Linked DNA regions of Homo sapiens: all the other regions are linked to region 1. The links come from fine-mapping of genetic effects on gene expression. A gene starts in region 1. Each other region holds a variant in brackets. All regions are shown on one strand. Distances are between the middles of the regions. Region 1 holds the start of CAPN12 (calpain 12). Region 2 overlaps ACTN4 (actinin alpha 4). Region 3 holds the start of LGALS7B (galectin 7B). Region 4 holds the start of LOC124904712 (a long non-coding RNA gene). Region 5 overlaps ACTN4 (actinin alpha 4).

The links. PIP is the estimated chance that this variant, and not a neighbour inherited with it, causes the effect.
Region 2: its variant is the best candidate, but not a certain one, in a credible set for the expression of CAPN12 in prefrontal cortex (BrainSeq, PIP 0.57).
Region 3: its variant is the best candidate, but not a certain one, in a credible set for the expression of CAPN12 in sun-exposed skin (GTEx, PIP 0.70).
Region 4: its variant is the best candidate, but not a certain one, in a credible set for the expression of CAPN12 in whole blood (INTERVAL, PIP 0.60).
Region 5: its variant is the best candidate, but not a certain one, in a credible set for the expression of CAPN12 in whole blood (TOPMed, PIP 0.53).

Annotation. Positions count from the first base shown.
Region 1 is chr19:38,742,359-38,747,443 of GRCh38, reverse strand. It overlaps CAPN12 (calpain 12), which reads left to right and starts at 2,970. Exons shown (of 21, transcript NM_144691.4): 1 at 2,970-3,515; 2 at 4,342-4,411; 3 at 4,916-5,034. The coding sequence starts at 3,279.
Region 2 is chr19:38,669,792-38,674,791 of GRCh38, reverse strand. All of the region lies in intron 1 of ACTN4 (actinin alpha 4), which reads right to left. Among named protein-coding and RNA genes, the nearest start is that of ACTN4, 25 kb to the right of the region's middle. RefSeq lists enhancers at 1-76, 107-176, 347-396. The variant A/G (reference allele first, on the strand shown) is at 2,427.
Region 3 is chr19:38,786,317-38,791,516 of GRCh38, reverse strand. It overlaps LGALS7B (galectin 7B), which reads right to left and starts at 2,317. Exons shown (of 4, transcript NM_001042507.4): 1 at 2,285-2,317; 2 at 1,813-1,901; 3 at 627-828. The coding sequence starts at 2,290. The variant G/A (reference allele first, on the strand shown) is at 2,356.
Region 4 is chr19:38,818,344-38,823,543 of GRCh38, reverse strand. All of the region lies in intron 3 of ECH1 (enoyl-CoA hydratase 1), which reads left to right. It overlaps LOC124904712 (a long non-coding RNA gene), which reads right to left and starts at 704. Exons shown (of 2, transcript XR_007067252.1): 1 at 147-704. The variant C/T (reference allele first, on the strand shown) is at 2,683.
Region 5 is chr19:38,652,096-38,657,095 of GRCh38, reverse strand. All of the region lies in intron 1 of ACTN4 (actinin alpha 4), which reads right to left. Among named protein-coding and RNA genes, the nearest start is that of ACTN4, 6.9 kb to the right of the region's middle. RefSeq lists a silencer at 1,308-1,357 and enhancers at 1,477-2,345, 2,346-3,214, 3,753-4,361, 4,362-4,971. The variant T/C (reference allele first, on the strand shown) is at 1,884.

The sequences.
Region 1 (5,085 bases):
TGAACGCCAAGGCATGGTCAATGCCTCGTGCAGTGAGCAGCGACTCTGTGTCAGGCACTTCTCTGAACTCATCCCACGTACGAACTCATTCGCTTCCCACAGCAACCCTCCGAGGTACGCCCTATCATCATCCGCATTGCAGAGATGAGGAAACTGAAGCACAGAGAAGTTAAGTGATGTGCCCAAAGACACACAGGTGTAGGTGGCAGAGCTGGGATTGGACCCCAGGTGCTGTGGCTCCTAATCCCGGCAGGCTGGAAGCACTCCCATATGACTCCCGTGGGGCTGGGGTGGGCTTGGCAATCCTACACGAAGAAAACTTTTTTTTTTTTTTTTTTGAGATGGAGTCTCACTCTCTCACCCAGGCTGGAGTGCAGTGGCGTGATCTTGGCTCACTGCAACCTCCGCCTCCCAGGTTCAAGCGATTCTCCTGCCTCACCCTCCTGAGTAGCTGGGATTACAGGTGTGTACCACCATGCCCAGCTAATTTTTTTTTTTTTTTTTTTTTTTGAGACAGAGTCTTGCTCTGTCAACCAGGCTGGAGTGCAGTGGCGGCTCACTGCAAGCTTCGCCTCCTGGGTCCACGTCATTCTCCTGCCTCAGCCTCCCGAGTAGCTGGGACTACAGGTGGCCGCCACCATGCCTGGCTAATTTTTTGTATTTTTTGTAGTAGAGATGGGGTTTCACCGTGTTAGCCAGGATGGTCTTGATCTCCTGACCTCGTGATCTGCCTGCTTTGGCCTCCCAAAGTGCTGCTGGGATTACAGGCTTGAGCCACCGTGCCCGGCCTTTTTTTTTTTTTTTTTGAGATGGAGTTTTGCTCTCTTGCCGAGGCTGGAGTGCAGTGGTGCAGTCTTGGCTCACTGAAACCTCCACCTCTCGGGTTCAAGCGATTCTCCTACCTCAGCCTCCTGAGTAGCTGGGATTACAGGTGCGTGCCACCACACCCAGCTAATTTTTTTGTATTTTTTAGTAGAGATGGGGTTTCACCATGTTGGCCAGGCTGGTCTGGAACTCCTGACCCGCCCGTCTCGGCCTCCCAAAGTGCTGGGATTACAGGCGTAGTAAACTACCGCGTCCAGCCTAATTTTTGTATTTTTAATAGAGATGGTGTTTCACCATGTTGGCCAGGCTGGTCTTGAACTCCTGGCCTCAAGTGTTCTGCCCACCTCAGCCTCCCAAAGTGCTGGGATTACGGGCATGAGCCACCATGCCCGGCCCTGTTTTGGGGGGTTTTTTGAGATGCAGTCTTGCCCTGTTGCCCAGGCTGGAGTGCAGTGGCACAATCTCGGCTCACTGCAACCTCCGCCTCCCAGATTCAAGCGGTTCTCCTGCCTCAGCCTTCTGAGTAGCTGGGATTACAGGTGCCCGCAACTATGTCCGGCTAATTTTTGTATTTTAGTAGAGACGGAGTTTCACTACATTGGCCTGGCTGGTCTCGAACTCCTGACCTCAGGTGATCTGCCTGCCTCGGCCTCCCAAAGTGCTGGGATTACAGGCATGAGCCACCACGCCCAGCCAGAAAGCCTGTTTTGTAACCCACTTTTGGTAGCCGTGTACGTGGGTGGCTTGGACAATATTTGTGGGTCCACTTGGAGGGAAGAAGGCCAAAAGGCTTGAGGGACATCTGAGTGGCGTGGAGGTGACAAGGCTCTGGGAGGGCAGCAGACACCCTCAACGAGGGTGGAAGGTCTGCTGGGACCAGCACTGCTGAGGCTCTGGCATCTCCGTACCTGTTTCTCCCATTTCCTCCAATGGCTCCAGAGTCCTTTGGGGGAAATACTGCTCCATCCAGACTCTGAGTGGCGTGGGCCAGGGCAGGGCATCATGGTCACCAGATGGCTCCCAGCACAGGAGAGGTACAGAGCCATCCCTCCAGGGTCAGCCTCCCTGGGCAAGCAGGCTGAGTCTACCTTGTCCGGGAGGGGAGGAGGCGCATCCTGAGGGCTTAGGGGGCGTGAGCGGAGGGGAGCTCAGGGTCCCTCGGTGGATGATGGAGGAGCCACATATGGGTTACAGGGACAGACAGAAAGATGGAGAGGAAGAGACAGGGAGGCAGACACAAGGTACACTGACAGGGTCTGAAGGAGGAGGGGCTGGGGGCCTGGACTCCTGGGTCTGACAGGTACAGAGAGGAACAGACACACGCTGAAAGAGACACAAAGAGAGAGGGGACAGGCATAGTGATTCACGCCTGTAATCCCAACACTTTGGGAGGCCAAGCGGGGAGGATCACTTGAGCCCAGGAGTTCGAGACCAGTCTGGGCAACAAAGTGAGATCCCCGCCCCATCTCTACAAAAAAAAAAAAAAAAAAAAAAAGAGGGTGGGGTGGGGAGAGGGGTGGAGTTGGGGAAATACAGAGACACAAATATTGCCAGAAACAAAAAACAAGAAAGGGCCAGGCACAGTAGCTCACATCTGTAATCCCAGCTCTCTGGGAGGCTGCTGAAGCAGGAGGATCACTTGAGGCCAGCAGTTCAAGACCAGCCTGGGGAACATATGGGACCGCCCCCCGCCACCCCTCTGTCTCTACTTTAAAAAAAATTTTTTTTAATTAACAAAACCTGACCAGGCACAGTGGCTCACGTCTGTAATCCCAGCACTTTGGGAGGCCAAGGTGGGCGGATTGCTTGAGGCCAGGAGTTCAAGACCAGCCTGGTCAACATGGTAAAATCCCTTCTCTAACAAAAAATACAAAAATTAGCTGGGCATGGTGACACGAGCCTGTAATCCCAGCTACTTGGGAGGCTGAGGCAGGAGAATCACTTGAACCTAGAAGGCGGAGGTTGCAGTGAGCTGAGATCGTGCCACTGCACTCCAGAAACTGATGGAGAAGAAACATGAAGGCGGGGAGAGAGAAACTGTCAGAGGGAGGGGGAGAGAGGCAGTCTGAGAGATAGAGACACCGAGGTAAACCCGCCTCCTTCCCCAGCCCCACAGGCATAAGTAGGCAGAAGCTCACCCCCACACTGACCTCCTTCTTGGTGCTCTGACAGCGGCAGCCGGTCCTCCCTCAGCTCTGCCCGCCTTCTCTCCTGCTGCTGGCCAAGCCCATTAAGCTGCTACCTTGGCCACAACTGAAGGCCCCACGCCCTGGGAAGAAAGCTACTGAAGAGGCGTCCCTGCTCCCCAGCACCCCAAACCATCAATTAATATTAACGAGGGAAGGCTCCTCATTGCCTAAAGACCCCACTGGGGCTCCAATGGAAGAGAGGCCCCGCCCCCGTGACTCAGGAGGTTAAAGGGCCTGGTGCCGGCTTGTGAGGCCAGTGTCCAGATGGCATCCAGCAGTGGGAGGGTCACCATCCAGCTCGTGGATGAGGAGGCTGGGGTCGGAGCCGGGCGCCTGCAGCTTTTTCGGGGCCAGAGCTATGAGGCAATTCGGGCAGCCTGCCTGGATTCGGGGATCCTGTTCCGCGACCCTTACTTCCCTGCTGGCCCTGATGCCCTTGGCTATGACCAGCTGGGGCCGGACTCGGAGAAGGCCAAAGGCGTGAAATGGATGAGGCCCCATGTAAAGTGTGGCTGGGGTCTGGGCTCTGGGGTCTGAGGGAGGAGGGGCTGGAGGCATGGACTCCTGGGTCTGAGGAAGGAAGGCTGGGGGCCTGGACTCCCTGGTCTGAGGGAGGAGGGGCTCGAGACCTGGACTCTTAGGTCTGAGGGAGGAGGGGCTGGGCCTGGACTCCTGGGTCTGAGGGAGGAAGGGCTGGGCCTGGACTCTTGGGTCTGAGGGAGGAGGGGCTGGGGACCTGGACTCCTGGGTCTGAGGGAGGAGGGGGCTTGGACCTGGACTTCTGGATCTGAGGGAGGAGAGGCCAAGGCCTGGACACCTGGGTCTGAGGGAAGAGGGGGCTGGGGACCTGGACTCCGGGGTCTGAGGGAGGAGGGGCTGGACCTGGACTCCTGGGTCTGAGGGAGGAGGGGCTGGGGACCTGGATTCTTGGGTCTGAGGGAGGAGGGGCTCGGGACCTGGACTCCTGGGTCTGAGGGAGGAGGGGCTGGGCCTGGACTCCTGGGTCTGAGGGAGGAGGGGCTCGGGACCTGGACTCCTGGGTCTGAGGGAGGAGGGGCTGGGCCTGGACTCCTGGGTCTGAGGGAGGAGGGGCTCGGGACATGGACTCCTGGGTCTGAGGGAGGAGGGGCTGGGCCTGGACTCCCGGGTCTGAGGGAGGAGGGGGCTACCATGGGACTGGCTCAGCACAACTTCTGGAGACCCAGGGAAGCCATGCTCCTGCCCACAGGCTTCCAGGCCTTTCATGGGCTTGGAGGCCCTCACTCCTCTGGATGAGACCTTTCCTCGCTTTCTCAGGCTGAGGCCTGGAATCCCCCACCACCCACAGGAGTTCTGTGCTGAGCCGAAGTTCATCTGTGAAGACATGAGCCGCACAGACGTGTGTCAGGGGAGCCTGGGTGAGACCCTGAACCCACCTGGAGTCCTCAGATCCAGCTAGTTTCAGCTGAGATCCTGACAGCTCCATCCCTTTGTCCACCCACTCCCGGCCCCTGGATCCCTCCTCAGTCTCTTCTCTCCCTAGGCCTCTCTCTCCCTCCTCCCTCCTTCCTTCCTTCCTTTTTTTTTTTTTTTTTTTTTTGAGATGGGGTCTCACTCTGTCACCCATTCTGGAATACAGTGGCACCATCATAGCTCACTGCAGCCTTAACCTCCTGGACTCAAGCAATCTTCCTGCCTCAGCCTCCCAAGTAGCTGGGACTACAGGTGCATGCCACCATGCCCAGCTAATTTTTAAATTTTCTTGTAGTGGAGTCTTGCCATGTTGGCCAGGCTGGTCTTGAACTCCTAGGCTCACGTGATCTTTCTGCCTTGGCCTCCCAAAGTGCTGGGATTAGAGGCATGAGCCACCGCACCAGGCCTCCCTCCTTCCATCCTCACCTAATCCTGGCCTCTCCTCCCAGGTAACTGCTGGTTCCTTGCAGCTGCCGCCTCCCTTACTCTGTATCCCCGGCTCCTGCGCCGGGTGGTCCCTCCTGGACAGGATTTCCAGCATGGCTACGCAGGCGTCTTCCACTTCCAGGTACAGCTCAGTTCCTCTGCCCATGCCTCCGTTTCCCCCATGGTGACTTGG
Region 2 (5,000 bases), 73 kb after region 1:
GAGTCTTAATACCAGGGACACGAAGTCAGAGGTAAAGAGAATCGATACTCGGCCCTAATGTTAGAGAAATAACCTAAAAAGGGAAGAGTCTGGTTGGATTCTCAGTTCTGTCTTTTACTGACTGAGGGGCCTGGGGCAAGTCACGTCACCTCTCTGAACTTTAGTTCTCTCATCTGTAAGGGTAGGGATAAAAATGCTGGGACTGACGTAAAGTGAAGCTGAAGAAAGAGACGGAATGGTGCTATCTGCTTTAATGAGCTGTGTTAGGGATCTGTCCCAGCATCGAAACAGATATGCTCCACGGCATTCCACTCGGCTGGGAAGTTCTTTTTTCACTGTTGTACACCCAGTACCTAAAACAGTGACTAGCACGCAATAAATATTTGTAGAATCAAAGCTCTCATTGCAGCTAGAATAAAATCCAAGATCCTCGCTACCGGCACATTCTGGCTGCTGTCACCCCTCTGACTTCAACTCACACTGCTCTCCCCACTGTCTTGGTCTCATTTTATTTCTCTCTTCCCACAACCCTGGGTCCTCCTGCCTAGAACAGTGTTCCCTTCTCTGAGGTTGGCTCTAACTCTCCCTCCAGGCCTCACTTCACTGTCATCATCTTGGAAAGTCTCCCCTGACAGCTCCCACACAATCTATTGCAAGTCCCCCACTGTCCCCTCTTAAAGGACTCTGGTCTTTTCCTTCATAAAAATAATCACACCGGGCGCAGTGGCTCACGCCTGTAATCCCAGCACTTTGGGAGGCCGAGGCGGGTAGATCACAAGGTCAGGAGTTCAAGACCAGCCTGGCCAAGATGGTGAAATCCCATCTCTACTAAAAATACAAAAATTAGCCGGACGTGGTGGCAGGCACCTGTAATCCCAGCTACTCAGGAGGCTGAGGCAGAGAATTGCTTGAACCTGGGAGGCAGAGGTTGCAGTGAGCTGAGATCACGCTACTGCACTCCAGCCTGGGTGATAGAGACTCCATCACAAAAAAAAAAAAAAAAAAAATTATACATATATAAATATATATATATAAAAATATATATAAATATATAAATATATATAAGTATATATAAATATATAAATATATAAATATATATAATATATATAAATATATAAATATATATAATATATATAAATATATAAATATATATAAATATATATGAATATATATAAATATAAATGAATATATATGAATATATATAAATATATATGAATATATATAAATATATATAAGTATATATAAATATATATAAGTATATATGAATATATATAAATATATATTCATATATATAAATATATATGAATATATATATAAATATATATAAATATATATGAATATATATATATAAAAAATAAAACCACAATTTGGAACACTCTATGTATGTCTTGGGTTTTCATTGTTGGTATTTTTTAATGCCTATTGTCCCCGACTAGGCTGTGTGCTCCATGAGGACAAGAAGAAGGACTATTCTGTTCACATCTCATTACTCAGCACCTTGTTTACGGCACATAGTGGGTATAAATAAATGCTCAATAAATGATGAATAGGCCGGGTGTGGTGGCTCATGCCTGTAATCCTAGCACTTTGGGAGGCTGAGGTGGGGGGATCACCTGAGGTCAGGGGCTTGAGACCAGCCTGGCCAACATGATAAAACCCTGTCTCTATTAAAAACACAAAAACTGGCCAGGCATGGTGGTGCATGCATGTAATCTCAGCTAATTGGGAAGCTGAGGCAGAAGAATCGCTTGAACCCAGGAGGCAGAGGTTGTAGTGAGCCAAGATTGTGCCACTGCACTCCAGCCTTGGAGACAGAGTGAGACTGTCTCCAAAAAAAAAAAAAAAAAAGAATGGATGGCCAACCCCATCATCTCCATCAATCATGCTGAGATGATCAATCACTTAAAAATGGTTACAGGGGCCGGGCATGGTGGCTCACGCCTGTAATCCCAACACTTTGGGAGGCCAAGGCAGGTGGATCACTTGAGTTCAGGAGTTTGAGACCAGCCTGACCAACATGGAGAAACCCCGTCTCTACTAAAAATACAAAATTAGCCGGGTGTGGTGGCACATGCCTGTTATCCCAGCTACTCAGGAGGCTGAGGCAGGAGAATTGCTTGAACCCGGGAGACAGAGGTTGCGGTGAGCCGAGATCGTGCCATTACACTCCAGCCTGGGCAACAAGAGCGAAACTCCATCTCAAAACAAACAAACAAACAAACAAAGAACATAGATCAAATAATAGAACCTTGGCAGGGTGTGGTAGCTCACACCTGTAATCCCAACACTTTGGGAAGCCAAGGCGAGTGGGTCACTTGAGGTCAGGAGTTCAAGACCAGCCTGGCCAACATGGAGAAACCACGTCTCTACTAAAAATACAAAAATTAGCCAGGTGTGGTGGCATGCATCTGTGGTCCCAGCTACTC[A/G]GGAGGCTGAGGCAGGAGAATTGCTTGAACCTGGGAGGTGGAGGTTGCAGTAAGCCGATATCACGCCACTGTACTCCAGCCTAGGCGACAGAGAAAGACTCCGTCTCAAAAAAAAAAAAAAAAAAAAGAACCACATGTAAGAAATACTGCTGTGTGGGCCATACGTCTGGCAGGAAAGCCCACTATGAGAACTCCCGCCATGTTCGTCCCTACCCTAATGTACCTTAGGTGGCACACCCAGGGAGAGCGAGAAACTCTCTCATCCTAATCGCTGTAGTATAGCAGAATAACATGACAGGCCAGCAGGACAATGAAGTCTACGCTGCCCAGCTCTTTTTCTGGGTGGAAAGCCCTCTTTCCCTCACAGAATTTCCATCCATGGAGAGCAGTGAGCAATGCAAAGCATTACAACCATTTTTCTTCCAGCTATTTCTAGGCACACAAATAACATCTAAGGACTCAAGGCCAGCCTGAGAAACAATTGAGCCAGGAAATACTCAAGCCAGTGCAGAGGTAACAGAGCCTAAAAAAGTTAAAAGCAGAGGGCGATGCCTTCATGGCGAGCTTCCTGGCTTTTCCCAGACAGACTGCCTGCTCCAAATGCGAAGTTTGATAAGGACTGTGGGGCTAGTACTCCAATCACAGGGACTCAATTAGAGTTTAGGAAAAAATGGCCTGAAGTTTTCAGGGATAAGTGTCCAAATTTGTTTCCAAGTCAACAAATTCATTGCACATCTACTATATCCCATTTTCCTGAAATCCATCAACTCTCCTATCAATAAGAAACGCTGCATTCAGGCTTTTCCATTTACAAAGATCTCAGGATGGATCTCTGTCACAAAACCTGGACTGCCAGTATCTTCCCAAAGTCAAATTTAAGAGATCAATCCTAAAGAAACTATTTCTGTCCATCTGCCACATGGGTACAAATTCTGAACTGGCAGTTCATTTATTAATAGAAAGCTGGCATTGTTCACCAGGTTATTGTGCGTGCAGAATGGCTGCCTCTGTAGAAAAGTGTTGCTTTGGGCTACCCAAAACAAACAAACAAAAAAACTTTCCACTATTTTGGTTCACAAAAACCTGAAGCCTAAAAATATGCAATATGGTGGGAGGAATTTTGAGGAGTCAACTCTTAATTATCTATGGTGATGGGAAAGGGGGAGGAGTCCGGAGGCTGGAAAACCACAGCTAAAGCAAACCCTTTTTACTACCATCCACTTCAACCACCTTTTATCAGAGCTGTCACTAAGGGGCAAAGTACAATTTTCTCGCTCCTAGTGAGAGGATTAAGCAGCAGCAATTCAGACAAGAGGAAAGGGGAGACTAGAGGAGAGGCAGAGACAGGGTCAAGACCATGCAAGGTTAGGGGTCACAAATGGGTAGCTCTTCACACCCAATAGGCCCTATTTTGTATGGCCTGCAGGTTTTTTTTTTTTTTTTTAAGTTGGAGTATTGCTCTGTCACCAGGCTGGAGTGCAATGGCGACATCTCAGCTCACTGCAACCTCCGACGCCCTGGTTCAAGGGATTCTCCTGCCTCAGCCTCCCGAGTAGCTGGGATTACAAGCACAAGCCACCACGCTCAGCTAATTTTTGTATTTTTAGTAGAGATGGGGTTTCACCATGTTGGCCAGGATGGTCTCAATCTCCTGACCTCGTGATCCACCCTCCTCAGCCTCCCAAAGTGCTGGGATTACAGGCGTGAGCCACTGTACCCGGCCAGGTTTTTAAGTTGAATGAAATGCCCCATAAAACTCTCCATTTCCAGCTTCGTGAAGTCCCAGGTCCCCATTCCCACCTGGCCACCATCAGCTAGAGCTCTGCAGTGGCCACCCCAGTCCCCACCCAGGCTACTTCCCTCCATTTTGTCACCTCACCTACCATGTGATAATCCAAGACCACAGTCCCTCAGCCCCAGGAGAAGAGAACCAGGTGCACACTCACATCCATTCTCCTCACAAGGGTCCAAATGACAGGATCACCTGCTCTGAGCAACAAGATACAGGCCGGCCTATCCTTGCTGTTCCTGAAAGGGGGCTGCATGTGGAGCTGCCCTGGCTTTGCTTCCACCTTCCTGTGACCTCCACCCCACCATGCTCTTGCACTCCCACAGATGGCCTGAAATCCCAGGTGGAAGTGGAGGGTGTTACGTGATCCCCAACTCCCTTGAGTGGAAACACCAAGTTTCCTAGAGGACCTAGGAGATGTTCTTTCCAGCCACCCTATCTGAATGGTGGGGCTGGGAGGGGCATATGGAGGAGAAAGGGGTGGCTAGGAAAATGTTAGAAATACCAGATACACTGGCTCTGGGGACCCCTGAGGAACGACCCCCTTCAGCTGCCAACACTTTCCAATTGGCGCTAAGAGTGAACAGCTATTTCCACTAAAGATCAGAAAAGGACTGAAGTTTCCATACATTGAAGACTGAGCCTTGAGATTCTTGGCTGGACTGCAATTGCCTCTCCCTCCTTCCCCCAACGCTTGCTTCCAGCTACCCAAGGAGTCTTTTGCTTGTGGAGCTAGTGAGCCAGCATTCTGAGTGACATATTCCAAAGTGTCCCCAAATAACAAA
Region 3 (5,200 bases), 44 kb before region 1:
CTCATCCCCTCTGGGCCTCAGTTTCCTCACTGGGAAAATGGGGCTATTGTTCATTCTAACTCTTGCGTGAGGATCAAACGAGTTGACTGTGTGGCACAGTAAAAAGCGGCTTTTTTAGTGCTGGTAATGGATATTCTCATTTCAGCGACCATTACCCGCTATTAAAGCGCAGAGGAGGGAGGTGAATTCGCGTAAGCTGTGGGTGGTGGAGGATCTGCCGCCACTCCCACCCGCCAATCCTTGCTAGGACGAGTTCCTGGGCGCTGTTTCCAACCCATCCCTCCCCATGCCTCAAACCCCGGACCTCAGGAAGGAATGAACTGGGAGTAGGGTCTGGGATGGCGAGTCTGGGCCACGCCTTCCCGCTAGGACGCCCACCCCTTGGACACTTGGCTGGTGCTCGCCTCGTCCTGACCCTGCTGTCTCTCTGTCCCTCGGACCCAAGTGGGAGTTGTTTAGGCGAGAGAGAGGGTCGAAGGACACCCTTCTCCGCCTTGGCCACGACTTCCCTACCCCCCTCACCCCGCCCCGAACCTCCCTGCCTTCCACCAATAGCCTGGCTTTGCCCAACCCTCTGCTCCAGGGACCTAAGTCTTGGCGTCCACGCCCCTGTCGCAGAGACGCACCTTGAAGCCGTCGTCTGACGCGATGATGAGCACCTCGAAGGGCTGCCCGCGCTGGAAAGGAACGCCCGGCCCGCGCTCCTCGCGGCCCCAGGAGCCTTGCTCCTTGCTGTTGAAGACCACCTCCGACGTGTCCAGCCGGGGGTTGAAATGCAGGGCGGCATCGGAGCCCTGCTCCTCCCCGCACAGCAGGTTTACATGGAACCTGGAAGAGGGGGATGGTGGCCGTCAGGGCTCAGAAACCACCCAGACCAAGAAATGTTGAGGGTGAGGAATACCGATGTCTACAATTTACTTTGAATGAATAAGTAAATGAAATGTTGGCTGGGTGCAGTGGCTCACCCTGTAATCCCAGCACTCTGGGAGGTGGAGAAGGGAGGATCGCTTGGGCCCGGAAGTTAAAGACCAGCCTGGGCAACATAGCGAGACCCCACCTTACAAAAAAACGAAAGAACAAACAAAACATAAACCGCCCAGACCAAAGTGAAGGTCTTATGGGCTGGCACTCCCCATTCCCAGAGTACCCCCAAATTAACAGGGACCTGAAGACAGGCACACACCGCAGAAGGAGAGGTGGGCGACTAATGACCAGGGAGCTTAGATTCCCAAGGCAGCCAAAATATCATGAGGCCCTTGGCAGAAACCTACCCAGACCAAACTCACTACGCTTAGGGCAGGGTGCCCTCATTTCCAAAGAGCCTGGGAGCTGCCCAGGAGGTCTGGGTGATAGCCAGGGTGCTCCTGATGCTCAGGGAACCCTCAGCTTCTACAGGACAAAGAATAATACCAGGAACCCCAGTATTTCCAGGGTACCTCAGAATCCAGAAGGCCCGAAGTTCCTTAGCCAGGAAGTCAAAGGATGGCTTGGCAAGGACTCCCAGGGTCCAGGGTGTCTCCAGGACTTGGAGTATTTCCAGAGTTCCCTGGGACTCAGACATGGAAGTCATAGGACTATATCTAGGAACCCTGAGATTACCCAGGGACCTCAAATGCTTAGGGAAACTTAGGGACCCCAGCCACAAAGGCACGGGGGCAAATACGAATACATCAGATTTGAGGTCAGAAATGGCCTCGGACTCCTAGCCTGGTGGATACAGGTGGCCTCGGGCCCCTACTTCTGGACTGCAAAAATTGGGAGTCAGCTGATCCTGAGACCTGTACCCTTTACCCCTAGGGCCTGGGGCCTCACCTGCTGGCATTGGGAGGAACCAAGCCGCGAATTCTCAGCACCGTGCCAGGGCGGATGCCCTCGGGCAGTGAGGACTTGTGGGGGACGTTCTGCAAGAGTGGGGTGCAGGGGCCACTGTGAGCCGGTGAGACCGAAGGAGGGAGGCAGAAGGTGGGTCACCCCTCAGAGGAGCCGACCAGGGCTGAGACTGGCAGAAATCAGTGGAAGAGGAAAGGGTGGCGGAGAGGCAGGAAAGAGACCAGAAACAGACAGGGAAACAGATGGGGAGAGCAACAAAGACAAACAGAAAGATCCTCAAAGAGGGCCCCAGAGGAAGCCACAAAGAGGTAGAGGGGACAGTCGGGATGGGGGTTACCCGGAGGCCACAGCCCAGGCCAGTCCGTGGCACACTCACTGCCCACTTGCTCCTTTGAAAGAGGAGCCCCCAGCCCCCTCCCTGCTTGGCCCCGCCCCGGGCCCCTGGAGCACTCACGGACATGGCTGGGACCGGGTTGGGCAGCCGTGGTGGTGGGGCCTGCTGGGGACCTTAAATAAAAGCAGGGC[G/A]GGGCTGGCCCTGATGACTCACCCCACCCCTTCCCACCCACCACCCACACCTGGCACGGACCCTGGCCCTGGGGCAAGCCTGGCGAAGTGGGAGTGGCGCCTCTTCTTGGGGGCCCTGATCCCCCCATCACCCAGAGCCCGGGTGCACTGCCCCTCTCCTAGGAGCTGATAATAAGAGCCACCGCCCCTCCACCCCTGTCTTCCCACTGCCTGGCACACAGGAGAGTCTCTCATGCTCATTTTATCCACAGACATGTTGGGTCCTGAGAAGCCAAGCCCAGCGGGAACTCTAGACCCTTCTCTCCAGCTGAGAACCTCCTGCCTAGACTGGAAATGTCTGCGCTGAAATCCCTGCTTCTAAGTCTCCAGTGGAACAGCAGCCACAACAACGACGATAGTGCCAGACAGGGGGACTTCACAGGGTCGGAGGGCGGCCTGGTTGGCTCAGTGCTGCACCCCTGGGTCCTGGAGTGTGCCGGGTTCATGGGAAGTCCTCAGTCAGGAGGGGTGAAAGGAGGGGATCCACTAGGACTACGCTTGTCATTTCCCAGGCCCTTGGGCTGCCCAGGATATGCAGGAAATCACTGATTGGGACCCCACCATTCCAACAGAGAGAAGCATGGGTCACCCCCATTGTACAGAGAAGGAGGCTGAGGCTGGGATGGGAAGTGATTTTCCACAAGCCGGGCAGGACCCATTGCCCCAACCTCTGCCTTTCCTCACCTCTGGGCGTGCCTCTCCTGTGGGTTCTGTCTCTGGGGCTGGCTGTCTGGCTCTGTTTGTCTCTGTCTATAACTGTCTACCGCGTATTCCTGTCCCACTTCTCTCCTTCAAGTCTCTCTTGTTCCTCCTTCCAGGACTGTTACCATCTTCCCACCAATTTTGCAGGTCAGGATGAGGTGGGTTTTAGGGTGGTGGGTGGCCTAGCATTCCATCACCACCTAGATCAAAAGCAGAGCAAGGTGGGGACCCTCCCGCCAGCCCCAATATAGCCCGCTTGGGCCCAAGACTCTAGAAGAGAATCCAGGGTTGGGGAAGTAGACTGGGGGAGGCGGGGGGGGGGGGGGGGGCGGGCAGGACTGAAATCTGTTTCTGAAAGGCAGGGATGGTGTGGGAGCTGAACAGAAACCACTCCTGGCTGGGCATGGTAGCTCACGCCTGTAATCCCAGCACTTTGGGAGGCCAAGGTAGGTGGATCACTTGAGGTCAGGAGTTCAAGACCAGCCTGGCCAACATGGTGAAACCCCTTCTCTATAGAAAATACAAAAAATTGGCCAGGTGTGGTGGTGGACACCTGTAATCCCAGCTACCTGGGAGGCTGAGGCAGGAGAATTGCTTGAGCTGGGGAGGCGGACGTTGTAGTGAGCCGAGATCACACCACTGCACTGCAGCCTGGGCGACAGAGCTAGACTCTGTCTCAAAAAATAAAAATAAAGCCTGTAATCCCAGCACTTTGGGAGGCCGACGCGGGTGGATCACGAGGTCAGGAGATCGAGACCATACTGGCTAACACGGTGAAACCCCGTCTCTACTAAAAATACAAAACAAAATTAGCCGGGCATGGTGGCGGGCACCTGTAGTCCCAGCTACTCGGGAGGCTGAGGCAGGAGAATGGCATGAACCCGGGAGGCAGAGCTTGCAGTGAGCCGAGATCGCGCCACTGCACTCCAGCCTGGGCAACAGAGCAAGACTCCATCTCAAAAATAAATAAACAAACAAACAAATAAATAAATAAAAATAAACCACTCCTAGCAATGCAGCAGCCCTCCTGGACCTTTTCCACTCCCCACCCAACTCCTGCACTCCTGCCCCACCCAGCAGGCTGCTGAGAGGCCTGGGCAGAGGCAGGCTGGCAGTGGAAAGTTTGGGTGGAGACACCAGACCCAGAACCATCCTCCACCCTCTTTGTCCCAGGCCCCCAGCCTCTTGCCCCCTCCCCACACACTCCAAGGCACCAAGGTGGGGGACCAGTTCCTAGGGACGTGAGCTCAGAGAGGGAGGCTTGCAGCTGCATTTCAGTGGGAGCTGCAAGCACCCCCATTCTGCAGAAGACAAAACTGAGGCCTAGACAGGGACAGCTTCTCAGCCAAGGAAGCGGCCAGGCCCTGGGCTCCACAGGGGTGTCTGTGCCAAGGACATGTCATGGGCACGGACAGAGAGGACAGCAGGGTGTCCGGTGATCACACCACCAGCGCAGCTCAGTTAGTTCCCGAGAATGTTCCCTTGAATGGTGAACTCCATCATTCTAACATTATTGACCATTCTAAAGAACACACTCCTCACATTACTGACGCCTCATGCTGTGTACCGTGTTTCCCAGGAACTCAACTTTTTAGTGATCGCTTCACTGTGGCTGGATGTAACTTCACATGCAGCCAACATGCTGCAAGTCCCAACGTGCCTTTGCTGACTGGCCAAAGCTTTCCATTCACTCTATTATTAGCCTGAAGTCCTGACTCCTTTCTGGTAACAGATCTGCATCCTTGATTGCATCCTTGATGGGTTTTTGTTGTTGTTGTTGTTGTTTGTTTGTTTGTTTTTGAGACAGAGTTTTGCTCTGTCACCCAGGCTGGAGTGCAGTGGCACGATCTCGACTCACTGCAACCTCTGCTTCCCAGGTTCAAGTGATTCTCCTGCCTCAGCCTCCTGAGTAGCTGGGATTACAAGCATGTGCCACCACTCATGGCTAATTTTTGTATTTTTAGTAGAGACAGGGTTTCACCATGTTGGCCAGGCTGGTCTTGAACTCCTGCCCTCAAGTGATCCACCCACCTCAGCCTCCCAAAATGCTGGGATTACAGGCATGAGCCACTGCATCCAGCCCTTGATGAGTTCTTATTCAATT
Region 4 (5,200 bases), 76 kb before region 1:
TTCCCAGAAAGCCTGACACCCATGTCTTTAGTCCAGCGGCCATGCTAGTCACTTTTAACTGGCAGACAGGTGCCTGGTATTTAGCCCCCAAATTCTAAGGAAAAATAGGACAGAATAGCAAGTGAAAGGGGTCCAGTGGTACTCACTGCTTGGCGATAGGTGATAGTCTCACCGCTCAGCGATAGGCAGTGGTCTCACCGCTTGGCGATAGGTAATAGTCCCATCTGGGTCACCAAAATGTATCCGGAATTGGTGGGTTCTTGGTCTCACTGACTTCAAGAATGAAGCCGCAGAATCTCGTGGTGAGTGTTACAGTTCTTAAAGGCGGCATGTCCGCAGTTTGTTCCTTCTGATGTGTTCGGAGTTTGTTCCTTCTGATGTTTGGGTGTGTTCAGAGTTTCTTCCTTCTGGTGGGTTCGTGGTCTCGCTGGCTTCAGGAATGAAGCTGCAGACCTTCGCAGTGAGTGTTATAGCTCTTAAGGCGGTGCGTCCAGAGTGGTTCGTTCCTCCCGTCCGGAGTTGTTCATTCCTCCCAGTGGGTTCGTGGTCTTGCTGGCCTCTGGAGAGAAGTTGCAGACCTTCGCGGTGAGTGTTATGGCTCATAAAGGCAGTGTGGACCCAAAGAGTGAGCAGCAGCAAGATTTATTGCAAAGAGCAAAAGAACAGAGCTTCCATAGCATGGAAGGGGACGTGAGTGGGTTGCCACTGCTGGCTCGGACAGCCTGCTTTTATTCCCTTATCTGTCCCCACCCACATCCTGCTGGTTGGTCCGTTTTACAGAGAGCTGATTGGTCTGTTTTACAGAGAGCTGATTGGTCCATTTTGACAGGGTGCTGACTGGTGCGTTTACAATCCCTGAGCTAGACACAAAACTTCTCCAAGTCCCCACTAGATTAGCTAGACACAGAGCACTGATTGGTGCATTTACAAACCTTGAGCTAGACACAGGGTGCTGATTGGTGTATTTACAAACCTTGAGCTAGACACACAGTGCTGATTGGTGTATTTACAATCCCTTAGCTAGACATAAAGATTCTCCAAGTCCCCACCAGATTAGCTAGATACAGAGTGCTGATTGGTGCATTTACAAACCTTGAGCTAGACATAGGGTGCTGATTGGTGCATTTACAAACCTTGAGCTAGACACAGAGTGCTGATTGGTTGTTTACAATCCCTTAGCTAGACATAAAGAGTCTCCAAGTCCCCACCAGATTAGCTAGATACAGAGTGCTGATTGGTGCATTTACAAACCTTGAGCTAGACACAGGGTGCTGATTGGTGCATTTACAAACCTTGAGCTAGACACAGAGTGCTGATTGGTTGTTTACAATCCCTTAGCTAGACATAAAGTTTCTCCAAGTCCCCACCAGATGAGCTAGACACAGAGCATTGATTGGTGCATTTACAAACCTTGAGCTAGACACAGGGTGCTGATTGGTGCATTTACAAACCTTGAGCTAGAAACAGAGTGCTGATTGGTGTATTTACAATCCCTTAGCTAGACATAAACGTTCTCCAAGTCCCCACCAGATTAGCTAGATACAGAGTGCTGATTGGTGCATTTACAGTCCCTCAGCTAGACATAAATGTTCTCCAAATCCCCACTAGACTCAGGAGCTCAGCTGGCTTCACCCAGTGGATCCTGCACCAGGGCCGCAGGCGGAGCACTCCTCAGCCCTTGGGCAGTTGATGGGACCAGGCGCCGCCGAGCAGGGGGTGGCGCTCCTCGGGGAGGCTCGGGCTGTGCAGGAGCCCACGGCGGCGGGGGGAGGCTCGGGCATGGCAGGCTGCAGGTCCCAAGCCCTGCCCCACAGGGAGGCAGCTGAGGCCCGGCAAGTATTCGAGTGCAGCACCAGCGGGCCGGCACTGCTGGGGGACCCGGTGTACCCTCCGCAGCTGCTGGCCCAGGTGCTAAGCCCCTCACTGCTCAGGGCAGGTGGCGCCGGCCCACCACTCCGAGTGCGGGGTCGCCGAGCTCACACCCACCCGGAACTTGCGCTGGCCGGAGAGCACTGCGTGCAGCCTGGGTTCCCGCCCGCGCCTCTCCCTCCACACCTCCCTGCAAGCAGAGGGAGCCGGCTCCGATCTTGGCCAGCCCAGAGAGGGGCTCCCATAGTGCAGCAGCAGGCTGAAGGGCTCCTCAAGCATGGCCAGAGTGGGCTCTGAGGCCAGCGAGCAAGGGCTGCCAGCATGCTGTCACCTCTCACTTCCTTCTCTCTCTCTTTCTTTCATTTTTGAGACAGGGTCTCCCTCTGTCACCCAGGCTGGAATGCAGTGGAGCAATCTCAGCTCACTGCAGCCTCCACCTCCTGAGCTCAACCCCTCCCACCTCAGCCCCTACCACCTCCCCTCATCCTCCCACTTCAGCCCCTCAAGTAGCTGGGACCACAGGTGTGCACCACCATGCACAGCAAGTTTTTTCACTTTTTGTAGAGGCAGGGCTTGCTATGTTGCCCAGGCTGGTCTCGAACCCCTGATCTAAAGCGATCCTCCTGCCTCAGCCTCCCAAAGTGCTGGGATCACAGGCATGAGCCACCGCACCCAGCCTCCTGCTTTCTTTCTGCATCTCCCTCTGTTCCTCCTCTTGTTCATTTGTTCATTCATTTGACAAACATTCAGTGACACAGTCCAGTGCCAGAGCCCCCTCCTGGGTGCTGCAGATGTGGAAACGGGAAGCAGCCC[C/T]GATTCCTGACCCCTTGCTCTCATAGAGATCATGTCTGAGAACAGAAAAATGGGGCTTTTTTGTGGCTGTGCCGGGCCCAGGTCCTTCATCTTTCAGCTCCCAGCTGAATGTGGCCGTCTTATCTTATTTTCAGCAGCAAGACCCCGAAGGCCAGAAGGAAGAAACGGCAGGTCATGCAGTGACCCAGTGATAGAGTAGAACTACTAATTAGAGAAAGAAAAAGGTGGCCACAATTATGTAGCACTCATGGTGTGTGACGCCCCTTTCTAAGCACGTTAAACATATTAATTCTAATCACAGTCCACAAGACAGGTTCTGCTATAAGCCCCATTTAAAGGTGAAACAGATCCAGAGAGCAAGAAACTTACCCAATAATCACAGCTTGTAAGTGGCAGAGCTGGGATTTTGGAACTCATGCTGCCTGGCTATAGAGTCCTTGCTCTTAGCTGCTAAATGTCTGTCATCTGAGTAGCTGGCATGCTGGTTAAAAGTAAGGGGGATTGCCGGGCGCCGTGGCTCACACCTGTAATCCCAGCACTTTGGGAGGCTGAGGCAGGCGGATCACGAGGTCAGGAAATGGAGACTATCCTGGCTAACACAGTGAAACCCCGTCTCTACTAAAAATGTAAAAAATTAGCCGGGCATGGTGGCAGGCGCCTGTAGTCCCAGCTACTAGGGAGGCTGAGGCAGGAGAATGGCGTGAACCCAGGAGGCGGAGCTTGCAGTGAGCCGAGATCGCGCCACTACACGCCAGCCTGGGCGATAGAGTGAGACTACATCTCAAAAAAAAAAAAAAAAAAAAAAAAAGTAAGGGGGACTTTGGCCTCAGGCTGTGATCTGGATCCTATTTCCACTTGTCTTTTCACCTCTCTGTCCTGCCATTTTCTTTTCTTTTTATTTTTTATTTTTGAGCCAGGGTCTTGCTCTGTCGCCCAGGCTGGAGTGCAGTGGCGCGATCATAGCTGACCGCAGCCTGCAACTCCTGGGCTCAAACGATCCGCCCACCTCAGCCTCCGAAAGTGCTGGGATTACAGGTGACCATGCCCAGCCTCATGTGCAGCTAATTTTTTCATTGTTTGTAGAGAAGAGGTCTTGCAATGTTGCCCAGGCTGTTCTCAAAATCTTAGCCTCAAGCCATCCTCCTGCCTCTGCCTTCCAAAGTGCTGGGATTGCAGGTGTGAGCCACTACGCCCAGCCCCAAAATATACTTTTTTATTCATTTGTTTGCCTCCCCATGAGGACAGGGACTGTTGTCTGTATTGATCATTTATTGAGCAGCTCGTGTGCGCCAGGCCCTGTGCTAGGCCCAGGGGATGCAGCAGTGGACAGAAAGACAAAAACTCCTGTGTTCTCAGAGCTCACATTCTAGAAAGGGAGTCAGACCCTCAAGCAGATAAGGACCTAATTATAGGATAGCAGCTGTGCAGCCCGGAGGTAAGGCGGGGTCAGGATGCGGGGGATGGGGCCATCGTTGAGCCAGGTTGGCCAGGGAGGGCCTCTCTAGGAGGTGACCTTTGAGCTATAGCTGAAGGAAGTGAAGGAGTCAGTCTGTGGCTGTTGAAGAGGGAGGGATGGTTGTCAGCCCAAAGGTCCTTGGCTCCCTCCCTCTCCTCTGGGTCTTTACTCAAGGTCACCTTCTCAATGAGAAGATTCTGTACCACTGCACAGCCCTCAGGCAGTGATCTGGATCCTATTTCCACTTGTCTTTTCACCTCTCTGTCCTGCCATTTTCTTTTCTTTTTATTTTTTATTTTTGAGCCAGGGTCTTGCTCTGTCGCCCAGGCTGGAGTGCAGTGGTGCGATCATAGCTGACCGCAGCCTCCAACTCCTGGGCTCAAATGCACGTGCCCGCACACACACACACACACACACACACACACACAGAGTTGGAGACCAGTGTGCCCAAAGTAACAGGTTGGGAACAGTGCACACACACACACACACACACACACACACACAGAGTTGGAGGCCAGTGTGCCCAAAGTAACAGGTTGGGAACAGTGTTCATGCAGGGTAGTCATGACAAGGACGTTCCATTTTGTTCTAAGAGCCACAGGTGGGAAAAAGAGGGTCTGGGCCGGGCACGGTGGCTCACGCCTGTAATCCCAGCACTTTGGGAGGCCGAGGTGGGTGGATCACAAGGTCAGGAGTTTGAGACTAGCCTGGCCAACATGGCAAAACCCCGTCTCTACTAAAAATACAAAAATTAGCCGGGCATGGTGGTGGGCGCCTGTAATCCCAGCTACTTGGGAGGCTGAGGTAGGAGAATCACTTGAACCGGGAGGCGGAGGTTGCATTGAGCCGAGATCCTGCCACTGCACTCCAGCCTGGGCGACAAGAGCGAGACTCTGTCTGAAATAAAAAAAATAAAATAAAAAAAAAGAGGATCTGACCCAAGAAGGTGTCCACTGGCTTCCCCTGGCTGCCTGTAGGGAATAGACTGGGGACACAGGTGGAAACAGGGAGAGCAGGGTGGGCTCATGGAGAACAACTGATGCAGGAAAGGTCAGATTCAGG
Region 5 (5,000 bases), 90 kb after region 1:
GCTGAGGCTGAAAGATCCCTTGAGCCCAAGAGTTCAAGGCTGCAGTGAGTTATGATTAGGCCACTGCACTCCAGCCTGGGTGACAGTGAAACCCTGTCTCTAAAAAATCAAAACAGAACAAAAACCAAATGTGTTCCCTTCAGACATGGAAAACACAAAGTGGGGTATACTGCCTGCCTTCTGTGCTTCCTCTGATCCACCTAGACTGTGGCTTCCACCCACTCTCAAAAGACATCAGGGAGGGGAAAAGATGAAAAGAAAAACCCACTAGAAAGCTAGTGACAGACATCACTCAGCCCCACACCTTTGGGGGGGAAACTTTAAAAAACATAAAACAAACCACAAAGTCTTCTTTATTCCTGCCTGAAGCTGAAGACACAAATGCTATTGTATTGCTGGTGTTCTAGCATCCCATTCAATCATTGCAACACCATCCACGATATTTCCCAAGATGACTTCATTGTGTTCTGCAGGGTAGTAACTGCCGCTTCCAACTACTTCTGCCCCATGTGGATAGTTCCACTGGAAGACAAAGAATCTGTTCTGCTCTGATATTTGGAAGAAAAACATTTAAATAAGCCTTGTTAACTCAGCAGGAGGGCACTGCTTTCCTTTCAAAATGTAGGGTTCAAATCCGATGAAGGGGTGGCAGTGTGCTTTCTTCGTGGGAGGGGCCCAACTCTAAGAAGAAAACTGGAGCCTTAAGAGAAAAAGTTGGCTGGGCGTGGTGACTCACACCTGTAATCCCAAGACTTTGGGAGGCTGAGACCAGACTGGGCAACACAGCAAAACCCCATCTCTACAAAAACACAAAAATCAGTCAGGCGTGGTGGTGTGCACCTCTAGTCCCAGCTACTTGGGAAGCTGAGGTGGGGGGATGGCTTGAGCCCGAGGTCAAAGCTTCAGTGAGCCAAGATTGTTCCACTGCACTCCAGCCTTGGTAAAAAGAGTGACACCCTGTCTCAAAAAAAAGGAACAAAGGCAAGAAAAACGAAGAAAGAAAAAAGTTGTGTGAGGAACAAATGATAAACCCACATTTCTTACAGCTAGCCCTCTGTATCCATGGGTTCTCTATCTGTGAATTCAACCAACAATGGATCGAAAATACTGGAAGAAAAAAAATGAATGGTTGCATCTGCACTGAACATGTACATATTTTTGTCATTATTTCCTAAACAGCACAGTGTAACAACCATTTACGTAGCATTTAGCATTAGGTTATAAGTAATCTAGAGATGATTTAAAGTATTCAGGAGGATGTGCATAGTTAAAATGCAAATTACACATCGTTTTATCTTACATAAGGAACTTGAGCATCTGTGGATTTTGGTATATAAGGGGGTTCCTGGAACCAATCCCCCACAGATACTGAGAAATGACTGTATTTTCAATGTGTCCTGGTTTCTTACAAAACCTCAAAAGCACTAACACTTGAAACTGAAGATGAATCAAGCATCATCCAGTCATGAGCCATATGTTCGAGTCTAGTATGGCCGGATGACACACAGAGCCAAGAGGGGCTGTGTGCTCCTGGACAAGGTGCTGCCCTGCCCACCTCGACCAGATGAGATCAAGTTTTTTTCCCAAGTGTGACATACACACATGGAAAATTTTAAGGGTTATCTACACCTTACATTACACCCTGAATCACATTGAGAAAGTTATTTCCTTTGATTCTCTTGTAAACCTGATGACTTCAAAGAGAAAGTCTCTGCTTGGTGCTGGTGGGTCTTTAACACCTCACCAACACTTGCCAATCCCTTTCTAACAAAGGGAGCAGGCCTCAAGCCTGGGGGGCCTTCAGCCCGAGTGGTAACCACCTGGAAACAACACTGTTTTGTTTTCAATGTGTTTATTTTTGCAGTTTCCTTCTATTATATTTA[T/C]GGCCAGGGGAGCTGGGTTTTCCAGTTGCCATACTCTTGTCAGTTTTCCTTTCAAAACTTAATTTAAAATGCAAACTGATTCAAAGGAAATTATTATGTGTCTATAAAAGTGGTTATGGAAAATCACAAATGGCTGCAGTTTACGAAGGAAGGGGATAAGCACAGGGGGACTGCTCTGGCTGGGGAGCCTCACTCCTGGGGGAGGGGGAGAGAATGGAACTCATCCCAGGAAGGAAGGAGCCAGCACAACAACAGGTGGCAAACAGCAAATCCCACGTAAACTCACTCCACTCGCCTTCAGATAACACTTGCATAAATCACAACCAAGAAAAAGGCCACTGACCTCTTCCAGAGTAAACGCTGTTCAAACTAAAGGGAAGGCAGGCAAATTACACCAATCAGCTTCTAAGACTTTCCACGGACATTCCAAGTTAATGCCTCTCTTGTTTATGGAGAAAGGGGAGGGGAGGGACGTGAAAAAACACAACCAAAAAAAGGCACAACACCAAGACAAATGCCTCGGGGATTTTTATAATCCCAGGGAAACTGCTACTTGGATAAAACTTCCCATGCACTGATGTAAGGATGCTCTTGCCAGTTAAATATATGCAAAGATTTAACTCCTTTTCTTTTTCTTTTTTTTTTTTTTTTGAGACGGAGCCTTACTCTGTCGTCCAGGCTGGAGTGCAGTGGCGTGATCTCAGCTGACTGCAACCTCCACCTTCCAGGTTTGAGTGATTATCCTGCCTCAGCCTCCCCAGTAGCTGGGATTACAGGGGTGCACCACCGTGCCCGGCTAATTTTTTGCATTTTAGTAGAGATGGGGTTTCACCATGTTCGCCAGGCTGGTCTTGAAGTCCTGACCTCACGTGATCCACCTACCTCGACCTCCCAAAGTGCTGGGATTACAGGCGTGAGCCACCACACCCGGCGATTTCACTTTCTGGAGGAGGCGGGATCCTTCCCTGGGTCAGGTGGTTAATTTCTCCCCTTCATAAGATCCTTCTTTAAACAGAGGCTGGAATTTAAAATGATTCTGTTTCTCTTTGATTCATTGAAAGTTACACTCCTTGATGCCTGGGATACCGAGTAAAATGTAACTCATAGACCTTCTTGAAGAAAAGTTAAGTGATACCTGGGCCACTTTCAGACACTTTATAACAAATTCTGGCGCCTAGGCTGCCAACACTGTAAAACTAAGTTTCCTTGTAACTTGCTTTGATGTTTCCAAGTTTAAACCCATTCTAAAGAAGACTAATGAGCTCTCAAACTACCCAGTGATAGAAAGACTTCTTTCAAATCTCCACGGATGACAGTATTTGTATCTGCTCAAGTAGAAGCTTCCGTCTCTCTTGTAACAGGTCAGTGCTTCAGTTACCACTGCCATTGAATTACCCACTTGCTATCACTTGCCTCTTATTTCCATAAAAAAAGAAACGGAGGAAAAAACTGTTTAAGTTTTACCTTGTTTAAAAGTAACACGAGTGCTTTTGTTATTCTGTAAACTAAATACATAAATGAAGGCAAAGGAAGGAAACTGAGGGAAGGGAACAAAATGTGAGTGATGAAAACACGGAGTTCATTAAATGAAGGAATAAAGATAAAGCCGGGGAAAACACTGCTCTAGGATATACTAAGGCAAGGGAAGAGATAAACATGTTGATATTTCAGCTATTCAGAAAACCTGAACGAGCAAGTGATACTAGAGCAAACAGCTGTTCACTAATTATATTTGCCCTTCCCTTCTGCCCTTCAAAAAAGTAAAAGCAGCAGCAAGGGAATCTTTTTTTTTTTTTTTTAAAGAACAACCCTAAGGTCTGGTCAAAGGCTTGTACAATTCCCAGCACAACATAAATCAGTGTAGCAAAAACGGAAAGTGTTCATCTCAACGGTTTCAAATTCCTTGGGCCTTCCCAAATCAATTCTTTTTTGGCTCCATTCTGTTTGCTAACTAGCACTGGCAGATAACTTGTGCTACACTCAGTTCACTCTGAAAAAGGGCGCTGTCTGGCCAAAGTCTGCCATGACTGGAGCATATGTTGAAACAGCAGAACTCCCCACCCAGGAGGCTTAGACTTAAAACTTGTCCCCGCTCCCCTCTGTCATCTGATTTTTTTTTTTTTTTTTGAGATGGAGTCTTGTTCTGTCACTCAGGCTGGAGTGCAGTAGCGCGATCTTGGCTCACTGCAACCTCCACCTCTCAGGTTCAAGCGATTCTCCTGCCTCAGCCTCCCAAGTAGCTGGGATTACAGGCACCTGCCACCATGCCCAGTTAATTTTTGTATTATTGGTAGAGACGGGGTTTCACCATGTTGGCCAGGCTGGTCTCGAACTCCTGACCTCAGGTGATCTGCCCACCTCAGCCTCCCAAAGTGCTGGGATTACAGGCGCGAGCCACTGCGCCCGGCCATAAGACCACATTTTAACTGACCTCCCTGACTGTGTCAGAGCTTAATAGCACCAGCACTACTTGGATATTCACACACCACCCTGCTTCCTCCAACACTTTCCACTGAACTTTCCCCCCCACAAGGCAGCCCACTTGGGGCCAAGCAGTCGGCTGCCGTTAAATGGAGGCTTTTAGCACCAGTTCCAACTGGAGGGTGAGTCAGCTCCCTGCCACCAAAGTAGCCTCCCTGTTGGTCTTAGAAGCCGGAACCAGGGAGGGTGTTTCAAAAGGCAGAGGGCAATCCTGGGCCCACACCCTGGATTGTTTAGGATTAGGTGAGTGGCAGGTGCCACTCCAGGGCACCAGCCAGATCTCAACTCTTAGCCAGGTGAGTGTAAGTGACCCTGCAGTCCCAGGCCATCTTCCCATACCCCACCTTTTCTTCAGTCATTAGAAGAGTCAAGTTCTAAAATACATTCTGGAGAGGATGAGGGGAGAGAACAGAGTGCTAGCAGCTGAGTGGCCTCCCCTATCCCTCTTACAAGAGGGCAAACAGAGTATACTTGCCTCTCACACATATTTACACAGTCTTTTTTCTAGATAACAGTTGAGTTTGAGTTTGGTTCCTTTTTTTTTGTCAAGTGTGTTACTCAATTTTGAAAACTGTTAGTCCTAGCCAGATCCTAAGAGGCAAGCAATTAGAGTAATGGAACAAAGTAACAGATGGC